2 separate regions of the Homo sapiens genome follow, and region 2 is linked to region 1. Evidence: fine-mapped QTL for protein levels in blood plasma. Region 1 holds a variant in brackets. A gene starts in the other region. All regions are shown on their reverse strands. Region 1 holds the start of LOC124905350 (a long non-coding RNA gene). Region 2 holds the start of KLK11 (kallikrein related peptidase 11).

What was found. PIP is the chance, under the fine-mapping model, that this variant and not a neighbour inherited with it causes the effect. Protein levels are from antibody-based Olink assays in UK Biobank. Linkage for the fine-mapping came from a reference panel and not from the study's own genotypes, which makes the PIPs less certain.
Region 2: it holds the start of KLK11, and the variant in region 1 is fine-mapped to the plasma level of the KLK11 protein (UK Biobank, PIP above 0.99).

Annotation. Positions count from the first base shown.
Region 1 is chr2:241,841,014-241,850,500 of GRCh38, reverse strand. It overlaps LOC124905350 (a long non-coding RNA gene), which reads right to left and starts at 6,334. Exons shown (of 2, transcript XR_007088410.1): 1 at 6,023-6,334; 2 at 4,021-5,936. It overlaps PDCD1 (programmed cell death 1), which reads left to right. Exons shown (of 5, transcript NM_005018.3): 5 at 1-617. RefSeq lists silencers at 7,190-7,484, 8,416-8,575 and an enhancer at 7,115-7,812. The variant G/A (reference allele first, on the strand shown) is at 5,326.
Region 2 is chr19:51,025,954-51,035,440 of GRCh38, reverse strand. It overlaps KLK11 (kallikrein related peptidase 11), which reads left to right and starts at 8,825. Exons shown (of 6, transcript NM_001136032.3): 1 at 8,825-8,903. KLK12 (kallikrein related peptidase 12) reads left to right here and starts at 439. Exons shown (of 6, transcript NM_001370125.1): 1 at 439-635; 2 at 801-856; 3 at 1,302-1,461; 4 at 3,306-3,565; 5 at 4,520-4,653; 6 at 5,984-6,347. The coding sequence starts at 820. The coding sequence ends at 6,139. RefSeq lists a silencer at 5,250-5,481 and enhancers at 7,514-8,070, 8,630-9,187, 9,188-9,487.

The sequences.
Region 1 (9,487 bases):
TTTCAGGGAAGGTCAGAAGAGCTCCTGGCTGTGGTGGGCAGGGCAGGAAACCCCTCCACCTTTACACATGCCCAGGCAGCACCTCAGGCCCTTTGTGGGGCAGGGAAGCTGAGGCAGTAAGCGGGCAGGCAGAGCTGGAGGCCTTTCAGGCCCAGCCAGCACTCTGGCCTCCTGCCGCCGCATTCCACCCCAGCCCCTCACACCACTCGGGAGAGGGACATCCTACGGTCCCAAGGTCAGGAGGGCAGGGCTGGGGTTGACTCAGGCCCCTCCCAGCTGTGGCCACCTGGGTGTTGGGAGGGCAGAAGTGCAGGCACCTAGGGCCCCCCATGTGCCCACCCTGGGAGCTCTCCTTGGAACCCATTCCTGAAATTATTTAAAGGGGTTGGCCGGGCTCCCACCAGGGCCTGGGTGGGAAGGTACAGGCGTTCCCCCGGGGCCTAGTACCCCCGCCGTGGCCTATCCACTCCTCACATCCACACACTGCACCCCCACTCCTGGGGCAGGGCCACCAGCATCCAGGCGGCCAGCAGGCACCTGAGTGGCTGGGACAAGGGATCCCCCTTCCCTGTGGTTCTATTATATTATAATTATAATTAAATATGAGAGCATGCTAAGGAGTTCTGTCCTGTCTGGTGGCTGTGGGGGCAGTGGGCAGGAGGGAGGGAGGCCTCCAGGGAGGGACAAGGCGGCAGCCAGGCTGAGGCTGTGTGTGGAGGGTGCTGGTGGCTCCCCTGGATCCTGGCCTGAGTCAGGCCTTCCCCTCGCTGTCCCAGAAACACACAGGCCCTCCTCGCCCTGTTTGCCCCACTCACATGTAGAGCCCTCCGGTGAAAAATTCCTCCAACATCACGGGGCTGGGGACACCATCTTCCCCAAGCCCAGGCCTTTTAGGGGGGTCCCACGGCCCCCTGGCCCCAGGCTTCCTGGCCAGGCATGGGTGTCCCTGAGTGACTGTGCCTGCTCCATAGCCCCCGTGTCCCCATGCCTACCAGTCCCTCCGGGCAGGGGTGGTACCTGGTGCCAGGGCGTCCACAGCGGGGTGGGAGGGCTGCCCTGGGCTATGAGGGACACAGCATCTGCGGGTCCCTCCCTAAGTACACAGGGTGGGGGCAGCGGGGGAGGCGGGGTCACGTCTGCTGGAGCCCTATCACCCTGCTGCGGTCCTTGGCAGCTAGCAGCAGGGACGGTGCAGGGAAAGGAGCCCTGCCAGGCCCTCGGGCACCGCAGCCAAACACCCACTGACACCCCGGGGCTCATTCTCTGCTTGCCATCCTGGAGCCCAGTCCTGGACCCCATGCCTGTGTCAGGGACAGGCACAGAGACCTCGCAGCTCTGGGAACTCCCGGTGAGATCCGGCAGATCAGGCCTGGCAGGGAACGCTGCCCGGGGGCTCTGCACATGATGTGGGTTTCCATCCGCAAAACCCGATAGGTCCCATGGAAAATGACCACAGGCAATGAGAAAGCCATAGAGTGCTGCCTGTGAGATCAGCGTCCAGAACTCACAGCTCTCAAACACCCACTCACAGCGCAGCGCGCCAGCGTCCAGAATTCACGGCTCTCATTCATCCATTGACAGCGCAGCGCGCCAGCATCCAGAACTCAAGGCTCTCAAACACCCATTCACAGCGCAGCGCGCCAGCATCCAGAACTCACGGCTCTCATTCATCCACTGACAGCGCAGCGCGCCAGCATCCAGAACTCAAGGCTCTCAAACACCCATTCACAGCACAGCGCGCCAGCATCCAGAACTCACGGCTCTCATTCATCCATTGACAGCGCAGCGCACCAGCATCCAGAACTCAAGGCTCTCATACACCCATTCACAGCGCAGCGCGCCAGCATCCAGAACTCAAGGCTTTCATTCATCCATTGACAGCGCAGCGCGCCAGCATCCAGAACTCACGTCTCTCATTCATCCACTGACAGCGCAGCGCGCCAGCATCCAGAACTCAAGGCTCTCAAACACCCATTCACAGCGCAGCGCGCCAGCATCCAGAACTCAAGGCTCTCATTCATCCATTGACAGCGCAGCGCGCCAGCGTCCAGAACTCACGTCTCTCATTCATCCACTGACAGCGCGGCGCGCCAGCATCCAGAACTCAAGGCTCTCAAACACCCATTCACAGCGCAGCGCGCCAGCATCCAGAACTCAAGGCTTTCATTCATCCATTGACAGCGCAGCGCGCCAGCATCCAGAACTCAAGGCTCTCAAACACCCATTCACAGCGCAGCGCGCCAGCATCCAGAACTCAAGGCTCTCAAACACCCATTCACAGCGCAGCGCGCCAGCATCCAGAACTCAAGGCTCTCATTCATCCATTGTCAGCGCAGCGCGCCAGCATCCAGAACTCAAGGCTCTCAAACACCCATTCACAGCGCAGCGCGCCAGCATCCAGAACTCAAGGCTCTCATACACCCATTCACAGCGCAGCGCGCCAGCATCCAGAACTCACGTCTCTCATTCATCCACTGACAGCGCAGCGCGCCAGCATCCAGAACTCAAGGCTCTCATTCATCCATTGACAGCGCAGCGCGCCAGCATCCAGAACTCAAGGCTCTCAAACACCCATTCACAGCGCAGCGCGCCAGCATCCAGAACTCACGGCTCTCATTCATCCATTGACAGCGCAGCGCGCTAGCATCCAGAACTCACGTCTCTCATTCATCCACTGACAGCGCAGCGCGCCAGCATCCAGAACTCAAGGCTCTCAAACACCCATTCACAGCGCAGCGCGCCAGCATCCAGAACTCACGGCTCTCATTCATCCATTGACAGCGCAGCGCACCAGCATCCAGAACTCAAGGCTCTCATACACCCATTCACAGCGCAGCGCGCCAGCATCCAGAACTCAAGGCTTTCATTCATCCATTGACAGCGCAGCGCGCCAGCGTCCAGAACTCACGTCTCTCATTCATCCACTGACAGCGCAGCACGCCAGCATCCAGAACTCAAGGCTCTCAAACACCCATTCACAGCGCAGCGCGCCAGCATCCAGAACTCAAGGCTCTCATTCATCCATTGACAGCGCAGCGCGCCAGCGTCCAGAACTCACGTCTCTCATTCATCCACTGACAGCGCAGCACGCCAGCATCCAGAACTCAAGGCTCTCAAACACCCATTCACAGCGCAGCGCGCCAGCATCCAGAACTCAAGGCTTTCATTCATCCATTGACAGCGCTGCGCACCAGCGTCCAGAACTCACGTCTCTCATTCATCCACTGACAGCGCGGCGCGCCAGCATCCAGAACTCAAGGCTCTCATTCATCCATTGTCAGCGCAGCGCGCCAGCATCCAGAACTCAAGGCTCTCAAACACCCATTCACAGCGCAGCGCGCCAGCATCCAGAACTCAAGGCTCTCATACACCCATTCACAGCGCAGCGCGCCAGCATCCAGAACTCACGTCTCTCATTCATCCACTGACAGCGCAGCGCGCCAGCATCCAGAACTCAAGGCTCTCATTCATCCATTGACAGCGCAGCGCGCCAGCATCCAGAACTCAAGGCTCTCAAACACCCATTCACAGCGCAGCGCGCCAGCATCCAGAACTCACGGCTCTCATTCATCCATTGACAGCGCAGGGCGCTAGCATCCAGAACTCACGTCTCTCATTCATCCACTGACAGCGCAGCGCGCCAGCATCCAGAACTCAAGGCTCTCAAACACCCATTCACAGCGCAGCGCGCCAGCATCCAGAACTCACGGCTCTCATTCATCCATTGACAGCGCAGCGCGCTAGCATCCAGAACTCAAGGCTCTCAAACACCCATTCACAGCGCAGCGCGCCAGCGTCCAAAATTCACGGCTCTCATACACCCATTCACCCCATTCACAGCACAGTGCGCTAGGAGACGGAGTGGCGGGCGATGTTTCATCTAGGACAGCAAGAGAGAAGATGCTCCCGGCATAAACCTAGCCAGAAACGTGGGAAAGCTGCCGCAGAGGCTGAACTCAATCAAAGGCACCCTGACCCCCGGGCCCCGAAGAGGCGCCACAGCTGCAAACATGCACGTTCTTCCGATACAATTTGTAAATTTAATACGATCCCAGTAAAAACCACAGTTCTGGAACTACCATGCTCATATGGAAAAATTAACAAGCAAGTAACAGCCAAAAAAACCATGAAAAGAAAGTGAAAGAGGACCAGCTTTATGAGCTCAGGGGAAACTTACTGTAATGAAAACAGGGTGGGATAAGCACCAGAAGACACAGGAACAGGCCCAGTCCCTGCGACCCAAATCAGTGAGGGGAAAAACGACTTTTTAACCAACTGCCCAGGGATAGGGATAGCCATCTGGAAAAGTATTAAGTTAGACTCATATGCACAAAATCCCAAATGCAGCAGAGAGAAAAGCATACAAAAAGAACCCTGGCCGCGCGTGGTGGCTCACGCCTGTGATCCCAGCACTTTGGGAGGTCGAGGCGGGTGGATCACAAGGTCAGGAGATTGAGACCATCCTGGCTAACACGGTGAAACCCTGTCTCTACTAAAAACACAAAAAATTAGCCGGGCATGGTGGCGGGCACCTGTGGTCCCAGCTACTCGGGAGGCTGAGGCAGGAGAATGGCGTGAACCCGGGAGGCGGAGCTTGCAGTGAGCCGAGATCATGCCACTGCACTCCAGCCTGGGCGACACAGCAAGACTCCGTCTCAAAAAAGAAAAAAAAAGGAACCCTACAAGAAACAAGAAACCGTGGGTGCATTCTTGCAGTGTGGGAGGGGAAGGCATTCCCAATGAATAAAGGACATCAGGCAACAATTAAAGAGAAGACTGATACACTGAACTCCATATATTGGAAAACAAAAAACTTTAGCTTGGCAAAAAAAATCATAAACAAACTGAGGGAAAATGTTTGCACCACCACAAAAGAGCGAATATGCCAGTCGTAGGAAGATCTAAGAGTCTGGAAAAAGCAAGGTCAAAAATACACGAGAAAGTGCAGGAGACATAACCCAACAGCTCAGAGAAAATGTGTGTGCGTGAGCCTGTGTGTGCACGTGTCTACACGTGTGTAGACATATGTGTGCATACAAATGTGTGTATGTACATACACAGGGGTATGTGTGTGGGTGTGTGTGTACAGGTGTGCGGACGTGTGTATCTACAATATATGTATATACGGCAGTGCCTGCGTGCATACCCATATCCCTTAAACAATGAAAGGTTGTTCAGGTTCTCTCAACAAAAATACAAGTTGAAACTACATCCACCAGGCTGACAGAGCTCTGACAACGGTGCGGCTGTTGGCGAGGCAGCAGGGAGCAGGCCTGAGGGGCTGGCGGGGAAGCCGAGCTGGAGACGCACCGGTGCTGTCTGGTA[G/A]GCGGTGGGCACTTGCCCTTTGCCCCCTCAACCCCCATCCTCGTCGAAACACTTCCCAGAGGTCACCGGCAAACATGTGCAGACGCAGAGCCCACGAGCTCACGGCGCTGGCTCGGCAACGGCAAAGCCGTCCAAAGCCGGCCGGGGGCTTGAGCCCGCCCCGGAGCCTCCATCAGCTGAGAGCTGGGGCCGCGGGAGCAGGGAGGAGGCTCAGGGCTCCCCACAGAGGGTCAGGTCACTCAAGACCATGAGGGGACACACGCGCAGGACAGAACAACTCGCTGTCCCCAACTTGCTGTCGTGTGAAAATGACACGGCAGCAGTCTGAGCATCAAACAATGCCAAATTAAAATTAAAAACCTAACTGAGGCTTGGCACGGTGGCACTTTGGGAGGCCGAGGCGGGAGGGTCGCTTGAGCCCAGGAGTTTGAGACCAGCCTGGGCAGCAAAGTGAGATCCTGTCTCTAAGGAAAAATTTTAAAATTAGCCAGGTGCGGTGGTCCCAGCTCCTCGGGAGGCTGAGGCGGGAGGATCCCTGGAGTCCCGGAGGTGGAGGCCGCAGTGAGCCACGATGGTGCCACTGACTCCAGCCTGGGCGACAGAGCAAGACCCTGTCAAAAAAAAAAAAAAAAAAAGCCTAATTGATTGACACACTTTGAGTACGTTAAAAAGAACATGAGCTCAGATCGATACTCACAAAAAGAGACAAGGCGGGCGGGGAGGGAGGAAGCGGTCGCTGTCCCCGGGCGTCCGCGGTGTGTTGGCGGCTGAGAGACCGCGGCGCAGTCAGCACTTCGCCTCCCGCCTTCCCGTCAGGCCGCCCCGCGCCGCCGCGCACTCACTTTTTCCGTCCCCGGCTGGCCCCGGGCCTGTGTCGCCGCCGGGCTGCGGCTGCGCTCCCGCCCCACCCACGCGCCCCAGGCGGGTCGGCCCGGCCTCGCACAGCAGCTGCGGCGGCTTCAGGAGCGCCCTGGGTGTGGCCGGGCCTCGGGGCTCCCCGGGGGACAGTGCCGGGAGGAGGCCGGGGCGCGTGGGACCCGGAGCGAGAGAGGCGCGGCCCCGCCCCGTGTCCCAGGCCCCTGAGCCCGGCCAGCTCCACCCACGCCCGCGCCCCCGCGCCCCCGCGCCCCCGCGCCCCCGACCCTGCAGCGCCGCCCCCACCCCTGCGCCCCACCCCAGCCCCGCCCACACCCACCGGCCGGGTCTGCGGAGTGCGTGGGCGTTGGACGCCTTACTCTGCACGGGGGACCGCGGGTCCTGTGGGCCTCGTGGATGGAGCCCGGGGTCCTTGGAATTGGGCGGGGTGGGGGGGAGTCCGCCCAGGGCTCCCAGCAGGAGCGAAGGTGAGCGGGGGGCCTCTGAAAGGGAACCCACCCTCGGGCTACAGGAGACCGGGCTGGCGATCTGGGTGCAGCGCCAAGGCCCTGGGGGCTGGTGGGGCCGCATGGGGGGCTGCGGTGTGAGTCCTGGTGGTCTCTACCCTCGTGCGTCAGGGCTCCAGTGTGGACAAACCTCGCTCTGAGTCTGGGTGAGGCTCCTGAGATTCTGGAGAGTTCAGGATGTGGAGGGTCCTCTGGAGGGTGACCGAGGCCGTGTGACCACACCATCGCCGTGGCCCCCTCGACTGTGGCACAATCGCTCCCCTTCTTGGGTGGATCTCCGCGTGTTCTCCCCATACCTCTGACCCCAGTCAGTCTGCCGCACCCACCAGTGGGGGCCCCTGTGTTTGTCCAGCCTTAGAAAACCTGGCCGGGGTGTGGCCGGAGGGGCACTGCCGGTGCCACTGGCCAGGGCTGTGAGAGCGCAGGATGCCTGCCCCGGGCACGGGGGCACCGTCGTCCCCAACTGCTTAGCCACAGAATCCAAGATTGGTTTGGGGTCTTCAGTTTTTATCTCAATTCAACCTGCAAAACCAAGTTATTACATACATGGAGGAGTATTCAGCCTTAAAAAGATGGAAGTCAGTGCACCCCATTCCCAGCAGCGCAATTCACAATCAGCGGCCATGTGGAAGCAGCAGCTCCGTGTCCACCGCCGGAGGAAGGAACGGACAGCACGGTGATTCCGCACAGAGGGAGTCACCTCAGGAAGGAAGGGCTCCCACACCCGCCGCAGCGTGGAGGAACCTCGAGGACGTCACACCGAGGGGCACAAGCCACAAAAGGACAAACACTGTGTGACTCCCCACACACGAGGTCCCCAGAGTGGGCCGGTTCATAGGCAGAAAAAGCAGACGGTGGGGCCCGGGGTCGGGGGAGCCAGCGGGAAGTGAGTGTTTAATGGGGACACTTTCTGTTTTGCAAGAGAAAAAGAGTTTCTGTTTCTGGGCTGGGAGGTCAGCCGCTGAACCGCTGAACCACAGTTGCTGGGCGGGGAAAGTGGGCCTCGACCACTGCCTGGCCTATGCAGGCTGCCCCGGAATCAGGGGCAGGGGCAGGAGCGCCGGGTGTGAGACCTCAGCCCATGGCAGCCTTCGGCCTCGCTGATGGACAGAAGGGGAAACTGAGGCCCAGGGAGGTGTAGCTGTAGTAGTGAGAGTTCTCTAGAGAAATAGAACCAATAGGCCGGGAGTGGTGGCTCATGCCTGTAATCCCAGCACTTTGGGAGGTCAGGACAAGCAGATCACTTGAGGTCAGGAGTTCGAGACCAGCCTGACCAACATGGAGAAACCCCATCTATACTAAAAATACAAAATTAGCCGTGGGTGGTGGCGCATGCCTGTAATCTCAGGTACTTGGGAGGTTGAGGCAGGAGAATTGCTTGAACCCAGGAGATGGAAGTTGCAGTGAGCCGAGATCGCGCCATTGCACTCCAGCCTAAACAACAAGAACAAAACTCCGTCTCAAAAAAAGAAAAAAAAAAAAAGAACCAATAGAATGTGGAGACAGAGAGAGAGAAACTTACTTGGAGAAATTGGCTCACATGACTACGGCAGGCAGGCAGGCTGGGGACGCAGGAGGAGCCGAAGTAGCCACTCAAATCCAAAGATGCCTGCAGGCAGGATTCCATCCTCCTTTCTCTCCTTTCTCTCCGGCCTTCATAGACTGGATGAGACTCCTGTGTCGCGGAGGCTGACCTGCTGATTCAAAGTCTACTGATCTCAGCGGTAATTTTATCTTCGAAAAATACCTTCACTGAAACTTCTGGACTGCTGTTTGACCAACATCAGAGTCCTGCGGCCTGGCCAAGCTGACACAGAATGAACCATTGCAGGCCGAAGGAGGCGGAGCAGGTGGCACGCAGGACCCCAGCTCTTCCAGGAAGTCTGGGCTTGTGGGGGGAATGGCCGGTGCGGCAGGGGGTCCCTCAGCCAAGGCGGGCCTGCAGCCGATCACGTTTTCACAAGTCCATTGGCCACGTGGATGCCCTCAAGATTATACTGATTGTCATCCACTTTCTTCCTTCTCTTTTCTTGGAATTTTTATAGCTACACTTTTTTAAAAATTAATAGGCTCTACTATCTAAAGCAGTTTGGGGTTTATGGAAAAGCTGAGTGGAAAGTAGACGGAGCCCCCATGTGCCCCTCGCCTCGCCCCTCACACACACTCTGCACCCCTATTGTTAGCGCCTTTGCCTTGGTGCTGGGTCCTTGCTGTGCGACGAATCTGCACTGACCTGGCCCCATCACGCAGGGTCCACAGCTCGAATTGGGGGCCAGTCTTGGCGTCTTGCGTTCCGGGAGTCCTGGCAAGTGCATGAGGTCAGGTATCCACCATGATGGTGTCAGGAGAGGCTTCCCTGCCCCGAAATTCCCCCGAGCTCCACTATTCACCCCTCCCTTCCCTGGCAACCACTGAGGATTCTTACTGTCTGGGTAGATTGCCTCTCCCGGAATGTTGTATAGTTGGAATCATACAGCATGCGGCCTTTTCAGATTAGCTTTGAGAACTAAAAATAAAATTCTAAGCTCCCAGTCAACTAAAAGGACGCCTGTTAGCCAAGGAGACCCCAGAGAAACCTTAACACCTGAGTTCCCAGCTAGGACGGGACAGGAGGACATATACAGCTCGTTAGAGCCCCTCCCTTTTGTGGTTTAGACACAAATGCCCAGAGTGAATGTTGAAATAGAGACCATAAGATTGGCAGGATTGGGCCAGGCGTGGTGGTTCACGCCTGTAATCCCAGCACTTTGGGAGGATGAGGTGGGTGGATCACTTGAGGT
Region 2 (9,487 bases), not on the chromosome of region 1:
CTCTTTCTGGGACTCTTTCTAGCTTGGGCTTCCTGCCCCTCCCGTCCACTCTCCTGCTTTCACAGCCTCTCCTTCCCCCTGCCCCTCCCCTGCACTGCATGGGGATGGGCCCCAGGTGTCCAAGGTCTCCCCACCCTCCTTTGTCACTGGAGTCAGGATTAGAACCCAGCTCCCTAGTCACCTTGAGTCATCAGTCCTGGGGCTGCTGACGGGCTTGCAGAGGAGAGAGGGAGTGGGGCTGGGTCTTCCCACCCTGGGTCCTTTCCTCCTTCCCCACTCCGTTTAGCTGTAAAGCTCAATTAAGTGTGATTAGCTGAGAAGAGTTTCTGCAGAATTAGAGCACGCCCCACCCCTGTCTTCGTGGTCCCCTTCCCTTAACCCGGAAACTGGATGGGCCAGGACAAAGAGAGTTAAGAGCTTTGTCAGTGGTCTGTCTGGAGCGACAGATGGAAGGAAAGGGACCGGTTGAGCAACATGACAGGTGGCTGAGGAGCCAGGTGCAGAGTGGTAGAGTTGGCTGGCGGAGTGGCCAGCACATGAGAAGACAGGCAGGTAGGTGGACGGAGAGATAGCAGCGACGAGGACAGGCCAAACAGTGACAGCCACGTAGAGGATCTGGCAGACAAAGAGACAAGGTGAGAAGGAGGTAGGCGACTGCCAATGAGGGAGTGACACACAGGGGAGCAGGTAGAGAGAGGACAAGCAGGTCATCCCCTTGGTGACCTTCAAAGAGAAGCAGAGAGGGCAGAGGTGGGGGGCACAGGGAAAGGGTGACCTCTGAGATTCCCCTTTTCCCCCAGACTTTGGAAGTGACCCACCATGGGGCTCAGCATCTTTTTGCTCCTGTGTGTTCTTGGTGAGTTCTCCCGGAGCAGGGAGAGGGCAGGACTGCGACTGGATCCCTTCACCCCCATGAGGAGGCCCCACCACCCTCCCCATCTCAGCTCTGGCCCCCAGCCTGGTGGTGAGGAGGAGAGGGGCTTTCTCTGTGCCTCCATTTACCTGCAGCTCTCAGGGTACTGCTCACCTCGGTCTCCCCTATTTTTTGATCCCTCTTCCCTTCTGTCCCTCTCTGAATCTCTGTCTCTCCATTTCCCTCCTATGTGTAAGCATCTTTCTCCCTGGGTGTCTTTGATGTTTCATGGTCTTTTTCTATCACTGGGTCTCTCTCTCTTTCTCTCTCTTTCTCGTCTCTCTTTCTCCTCTCTCTCTCCTGCCTGTTTCTCTCTCTCACTCTGTGTGTCTCTCCATCTCTGTATCTTTTCTTCCTCTCTCTGACCCATGCCCCTGTCTGTCTCCAGGGCTCAGCCAGGCAGCCACACCGAAGATTTTCAATGGCACTGAGTGTGGGCGTAACTCACAGCCGTGGCAGGTGGGGCTGTTTGAGGGCACCAGCCTGCGCTGCGGGGGTGTCCTTATTGACCACAGGTGGGTCCTCACAGCGGCTCACTGCAGCGGCAGGTAAGTCCCTTCCTGGGGTGGGCGAAGGGAGGACTATGGGAAGGCAAGCGCTGGGGGTAGGATCACAAGGGAGGGTGGTGCCCACTGGGAAGAAGCTGATCCTGCAACAAGAGAGTCTGAGGTTAGACCAGGAGTGGAACTTCCTTAGCAGTGGGCCTGGGGTGGTGCTGGGCAGGGTGAGGTATGTTGGGTGGAGGGCCGGGGAGGGTCCTGGAACCTGCCCTCCTGCCTCTCCCATTCCTGCATGTACCCTTTCTTTCCTATATGACATCTGCCACTCACCCCAGCCATTCCTTGACCCAGTCTGGGCCCGGGGCCCAGGTCTCACCCAAGCTCTTTTTCTTTTTCTTTTTTTTATTTTTTTGAGACAGGGTCTCGCTCTGTCGCCCAGGCTGCTGTGCAATGGCGTGATCACAGCTCACTGCTGTCTCTGCCTCCCAGGTTCAAGTGATTCTCCTGCCCCAGCCTCCTGAGTAGCTGGGATTACAGGCACCCGCCACCATGCCCAGCTAATTTTTGTATTTTTTGTAGAGACAGGGTTTTGCCATGTTGGCCAGGCTGGTCTCGAACTCCTGGCCTCAAATGACCTGCCCGTCTTGGCCTCCCAAAGTGCTGGGATTACAGGTGTGAGCCACTGCACCCGGCCAACATGACCCAAACTCTTTGTGCAACTTCAGAATCTATGCCTGGCACCTCTCTGGGCCTCAGTAGACTGATGTTCTGGAATTTTTTTCTTTTTCTTTCTTTTTTTTTTTTTTTGGAGACAGAGTCTTGCTCTTTCTGTCATCCAAGCTGGAGTGCAGTGATGCTATCTTGGCTCACTACAGCCTCAACCACCTGGGCTCAAGTGATCCTCACACCTCAGCCTCCCAAGGAGCTAAGACTACAGGCCTGCGCCACCACACCTGGCTAATTTTTAAATTTTTTTTGTAGAGACAGGGTTTTGCTATGTTACCCAGGCTGGTCTCAAACTCCTCAGCTCAAGCAATCTTCCTGCCTTGACCTCCCAAAGTGCTGGGATTACAGGCATGAGCCACTGTGCCTGGCCTGGAACTTTTTTTGTGAAAGGGGAGATCAGATGCAAAGAAACAGAGACTCAGGGAGAGAGAGGGCCAGCAGCAGGATGCAGAGAGGCCATTCATCAACCCACTCGTTCAATCATGAACCCACTCGTCCACGCATGAGCATGGAGGGCACATGCTCCGTGCCAGGCGGTGGGAATAAGGCAGTGAACAAGGTCCACTGATGTCCCTGCCTTCATGGGCTTCACCAGCCGAGAGAATCAGAAAGAGAGGCCTGGCGCGGTGGCTCACACCTGTAATCCCAGCACTTTGGGAGGCCGAGGCGGGCGGATCACTTGAGGTCAGGAGTTTGAGACCAGCCTGACACACATGGTGAAACCTTATCTCTACTAAAAATACAAAAATTAGCTGGGCATGGTGGCATGCTTCTGTAATCCCAGCTACTTGGGAGGCTGAGGCAGGTGAATTGCTTGAACCTGGGAGGTGGAGGTTGTAGTGAGCCAAGATGGTGCCACTGCACTCCAGCCTGGGCGACAGAGCGAGACTCGGTCTTGAAAAAAAAAAAAAAAAAAAAAAGGAGAGAGAGAGACACAGATGCAGGGACATGGTAGGAGAAACAGGGAACACCCAAGATGGAAAGAGGGTGATGGAGGTTGGGAATAAGAGCCTGTAAGAGAGACTCGGAGAATGAGAGTTGCGGGTGAGAGGACAGACAGTGAGGGGCAGAACAGTGGGGAGCGGCAGGAGCGCCTGAGTGTCCGTGGAGGGGTGCAAGGTGGGGGACTGCGTGCCTGCCACCCGCTCAGCCGTCGCCACCGGCAGCAGGTACTGGGTGCGCCTGGGGGAACACAGCCTCAGCCAGCTCGACTGGACCGAGCAGATCCGGCACAGCGGCTTCTCTGTGACCCATCCCGGCTACCTGGGAGCCTCGACGAGCCACGAGCACGACCTCCGGCTGCTGCGGCTGCGCCTGCCCGTCCGCGTAACCAGCAGCGTTCAACCCCTGCCCCTGCCCAATGACTGTGCAACCGCTGGCACCGAGTGCCACGTCTCAGGCTGGGGCATCACCAACCACCCACGGAGTAAGGGGCCCAGGGCCAGGGGTCAGGGGTCAGGATGGGTACAAGTCTGGGATGCAGGGCGAGAGGTCGAATCATGACACCTCAGAGGAAGGATGGGTAAAGGGTCAGGGTGTGGGATGGGACATCAGGATCATGGTTTGGGGTCAGAGATTATGGTGGATTGGGGTCTTGGGAGCCAAAGGGGTTAAAGGACTGGGTATGAAGTCAGGGATCAGAGGTCAGAGGTCAGAGTGTGTCAGAGGTCATCACACTGGAGCAAAAGGCATATATATATATATATGTATGTATAGGATATGGGCATTGTGGGTCATGGGTCTGGGGTTAGAGGTCACCGTAGAATTAAGGTCATGGGATCCAGAGGTTGTACAATCTGGTCAAAATCTGAGGATGGAAATTGGGATTCTATCCAAAATCACATATCTGAGATTGGAGGTCATAGCGTTTGGGGTGTGGGGCCCGAAGTTTGGGGTCATGGAGGCTGGGGCCCAATAAACTAGGATCAGGGGACACTGGCGTTGGAAGCAGTGAGGTTTGGAAGATGCAGAGCTGAGGTTGGAGGTTAAGGTAAAGACAGGGACATGGGGTCAGGAGACAGAAGATATGAGATCAAGCTGGGATCATAAGGTAATAAGACAGAAGGTCAAAGATCACAGTAGCTGGCATTGAAGAGGGTCAGGTCTGGATTCGTTGTCTCTGACGCTGGAGAGACAAGAAAGTTCTTGAGTTATGCCACTCAAAGTCAAATGTCAAAGATCAAAGAGACCGTCAATCATCTGGGGTCATGATTCATATGAAATTAAGTCATAAATATGTAACTTGGAGGTTTCGGGATTGTAGTACAGGTCGGTGAGGGGCAGGGGTATTGACATGGATGGGCCACATCCAGGGAAGAGGGACGTGGCCTCAAAGTGGGGAGATTTAGGGGACCCTGCAGCACGCATGTTCTCTCTCCAGACCCATTCCCGGATCTGCTCCAGTGCCTCAACCTCTCCATCGTCTCCCATGCCACCTGCCATGGTGTGTATCCCGGGAGAATCACGAGCAACATGGTGTGTGCAGGCGGCGTCCCGGGGCAGGATGCCTGCCAGGTGAGCCAGTGCAGGCAGCGTGCGTGGTCACCAGGACAGGAAGTGAAGGGGAGGGGCTGGAAGCAGGAGGGGAACTGATGGAGGATGAATCAGGGAAAGGGGATGCTGCAGAGAGACGGGGTCAAAAAGGAAGGGAGAGGCTGGTTACGGAGGCTCACACCTGTAATCCCAGCACTTTGGGAGGCCGAGGCGGGCGGATCACTTGAGGTCAGGAGTTCAAGACAAGCCTGGCCAACACGGTGAGACTCTGAATCTACTAAAAATACCAGAATTAGCCGGGGGTGGTGGTGCAAGCCTGTGGCCCCAGCTACTTGGAAGGCTGAGGCAGGAGAATCGCTTGATCCCGGGAGGCGGAGGTTGCAGTGAGCTGAGATCACGCCACTGCACTCCAGCCTGGGCGACAGAGCCAGACTCTGTCTCAAAACAAAATAATTAATAATAATAATAATAATAATAATAATAATAATGGAGGAGAGGCCCAGGATAAGGGAGGGAGAGAGACAGGGAGTAAAAGGGAGGACCGGGGAATGGAGGAGGGGGAGGGGCAGGGAGAGAGAGGGAGGAAGGGAACAGAGAAGGAAAGATGGGGCAGGGGTTACAGAGAGAGACAGCAAAACAGACGGAGAGGACTGGGAGCCCAGACAGGGAACCAGCTGTTTCTGGGGCTCTAAGTCTTTCCCATACCATCCTCCAGTTGGTGCTGTCCCAGACTGAGAGAGATTTGAGGATGGCGGTCTCTCCCCTCATTGGTCAGGGCCCCAGCCATTGTCCTTGAGAGAACTCTGTGCTTTTGATGGAGTCCTGCCCACCTTCCCTGGGATTGGTCATTTTTGATGGCACTCTCTCCCCTCATTGGTCAGAACCCCAGGCATTGTCCTTGAGAGAACCTCTATCCTTTATGGAGTCCCACCCTCCTCCCCTGGGATTGGTCATTGATAATAGTGTTCTCTCTCCTCATTGGTCAGGGCCCCAGCCATTGTCCTTGAGAGAATGCTCGACTCTTTATGTTGTCTTGACAGCCTCCCCTGAGATTGGTCATTAATGACTGTGCTCTCTCTCCTCATTGGTCAGGGCCCCAGCCATTGTCCTTGAGAGAACCTCTGTCCTTTATGGAGTTCCACCCTTCTTCCCTGGGATTGGCCCCTAGAGACAGTGGTTCTTCTCTTTTGGTTAGCCATTGCCATTGTCCTCCGGGAAAGTGATTATACTCTTTTGTCTAATGACCAGACTTGGAGCCCTCCCCAAGGCCCAGGACTGGGTTGAAGGGTTGGGGAGGAAAACAGAAATAAGATGTCTCCCTTGTTCAGACAGTACTTCTCTTCCCTTCCAGGGTGATTCTGGGGGCCCCCTGGTGTGTGGGGGAGTCCTTCAAGGTCTGGTGTCCTGGGGGTCTGTGGGGCCCTGTGGACAAGATGGCATCCCTGGAGTCTACACCTATATTTGCAAGTATGTGGACTGGATCCGGATGATCATGAGGAACAACTGACCTGTTTCCTCCACCTCCACCCCCACCCCTTAACTTGGGTACCCCTCTGGCCCTCAGAGCACCAATATCTCCTCCATCACTTCCCCTAGCTCCACTCTTGTTGGCCTGGGAACTTCTTGGAACTTTAACTCCTGCCAGCCCTTCTAAGACCCACGAGCGGGGTGAGAGAAGTGTGCAATAGTCTGGAATAAATATAAATGAAGGAGGGGCCATGTCTGTCCATTTGAAGTCCTCATGCTGGTTGAGACTGGAAGAAGGACTCAGCAGTTTCCCTATCTCATAGGAGTAGAAACAGAGCTCAAATAAGGCCAGGCACAGTGGCTCACACCTGTAATCCCATCACTTTGGGAAGCTGAGGCAGGTGGATCACCTGAGGTCAGGAACTCGGGACCAGCCTGGTCAACATAGTGAAACCCCAACTCTACTAAAAATGCAAAAATTAGCCAGGCATGGTGGCGCATGCCTGTAATCCCAGCTACTCAGGAGGCTGAGACAGGAGAATAGCATGAACCCGTGAGGCAGAGGCTGCAGCGAGCCGAGATTGAACCATTACACTCCAGCCTGGGCGACAGAGCGAGACTCCATCTCAAAAACAAACAAACAAAAAACCCAGTGCTCAAATAGGATGAGGGTCTTCCCTGAGTAGTTACTCAGAAATGGAGTAGAAAAAGTTACTTTTAATAATATAGGCCGGGTGCAGTGGCCCACGCCTGTAATCCCAGCACTTTGGGAGGCCGAGGTGGGAGGATGGCTTGAGCTCAGATTTCGAGATCAGCCTGGCAACACAGTGAAATCTTGTCACTACAAAAACACAAAAAATTAGCTGGGTGTGGTGGTGCGTGCCTGTAGTCCCAGCTACTTGGGAAGCTGAGGTGGGAGGATCACCCGAGCCGGGGAGGTGGAGGCTGCAAAGAGCCGAGATCATGCCACTGCACTCCAGCCTGGGCAATAAAGTGAGACCTTGTCTCAAAAACAAAAACCCAGCAATATAAATAAGACACATGTTTCTTCATCTGGCATAATAGAAATAGTGCCCAGAGCTTATAAGCTTTTCAAGAGTCCACAAAAGACCCGAAAAAGAAAAAGAAAATTGTTAGCTCCAAAATACCAGATGAAAGCTGCAAAGTCAACATTTATGACCATTTAATCCAATGTCCATAAAACGTAGCATTCTTTCCACTAGCCAACTGCAGTTTACTTTCTTGTAATGAAGCATACATTGTATCTTTAATGTGGGACGTGGCTTTGTTCTAATAAGACGAAGGGTGGAGTGCAGGCTTGGAAAGCAGGAGAGCTCAGCCTACGTCTTTAATCCTCCTGCCCACCCCTTGGATTCTGTCTCCACTGGGACTCAAGAGGTGAGGAGAGACCATCTCCCCAAATGCACTGAAGGGAAACTGGAGGAGGGAGGGAGTGAGGGGTGATCATACCAGCGGAGGCACATTTGCTGAGCCCCCCCGCAGTCTGCTCTTTCCAAGTGGACCCTCCTGGAAGCCTGATCCCAACCTCCCCTGCAAGCAGGTCTGTCACCCCCATCTCTCAGATGAAGAAACTGAGCCTTGCAGGGGTGGAGTCCCTTGTCCCCACGTCATAAGGGTAGTCATAGTAGTAGGAAGAGGAAGCACCTAGGTTTGAGGCCAGGGCTGGCTGCTGTCAGAACCTAGGCCCTCCCCTGCCTTGCTCCACACCTGGTCAGGGGAGAGAGGGGAGGAAAGCCAAGGGAAGGGACCTAACTGAAAACAAACAAGCTGGGAGAAGCAGGAATCTGCGCTCGGGTTCCGCAGATGCAGAGGTTGAGGTGGCTGCGGGACTGGAAGTCATCGGGCAGAGGTCTCACAGCAGCCAGTAAGTGAACAGCTGGACTCGGGCTGCCTGGGCGGCAGGGAGAAGCGGGCAGGGGAAGGGTCAGCAGAGGAGCGAGGCCCCAGAGGAGCCCTGGGGTGGAGCACAGCCAAGGGCTCTGTTCCCTTTCCTGGACTCGGCTTCCACAGGCCCTGACCTGCCTCCCCCACCCTCCGGTCCTGCCCCTGTGCCTGGCAGCAGCCCCACCTGTGTGACATCCCAGCACACCCCCCCTCTCCTTGCAAAGGAGAAGGGAGCGGCCTAGGGGAGGCCAGGGGCCCACCTGGGCTGGGGCTGTGGAGAGGGAGTGGCTGGGACGGGAGGAAAAAGAGAGACGGAGATTAGATGGAAGAAGAGGGATTTCAAGACAAATTGCCAGAGATGCAGTCAGAGAGACTGACTGAGAGACACAAAGATAGAAGGAATTAGAGAAAGGGCCACACAGAGCCAGACAGAGAGAGAAGAGTGGAGATGGAGACAGGGACGAGGACAGAGAAAGGCAGACAGACACATAGGGACAGAAAGAGAAAAATCACACAAAGTCAGAATTACTGAATGACAGGGAATGACACATAGAACGAGACACAGATTCAGAGACTCAGGGCAGGGAAAGGAAGGCTGCAGACAGACAGACAGACAGAGGGAGGCTGAGACACAGGGAGAAGAGGGGCTTGGAGAGGTGGCACAGGCAGGCAGCCAGTGCCTCAGAGGCCTCCGGGGAGGGCCCTCACACACACCCCGCCCCGGGGCATTAAGGCAGGGCTTGGAGGCCAGTCATCCTGGGCCCGCCCAGGGCCGCCCCCCTGCCAGCCCGCCTGCCTGGTGCCTGGCACCTGGCGCTCCAACCCAGCCTACCTGCTGTAGCTGCCGCCACTGCCGTCTCCGCCGCCACTGGGCCCCCAGAGCCCCAGCCCCAGAGCCTGTGAGTCCAGGAGGAAAGGGAAGCTGCCCCTCCCCGTCCAGGTGTCAGCCCTCCCCAAGGACACCTGTCCCACTCGGGCACCCATTTCTCCCTCTGCTCTGTCCTTCTCTGCTTGGGTGGGGGTTCCTGGCCTCTCTCTACACCTCTCACCTCCGATGGCTGTCCGCAGCCTCAGTTACCTCTAATCTCCATGGCTTCAGCTGCTGAGCTGGCCCTCTGCTCCCACCCCCGCTGGCCAGGGCAGCGGAGGGCACTGGCCCTCCCCTCGACCAGCCCCGCCCAGCTTTGCTTGGCTGTCCTTCAAAAGGGCAGGGGTTTGGCGGACAGGGCTTCAGCAAGCCGGGTGATGGGGGTCCCAGACATTGTCTGGGGCTGAGCCCCCTACTCCCCTCCAGCAGACCTCAAAGGCTCCATATCGCTCTGCTGCGAAGACAATGAAAAAGGGGTGGCTACGGAACGGTGTCTGGTTCCCCTTGTCCTTCCACCCCAAGCTGCTGGGGCCTGGCCAGCTCTCAAGGCAAGAAGGAAAACATCCTCTGACATGTGCCGGGGAGGTCCCATGGCTGACTTGAACAGGGCCGAAC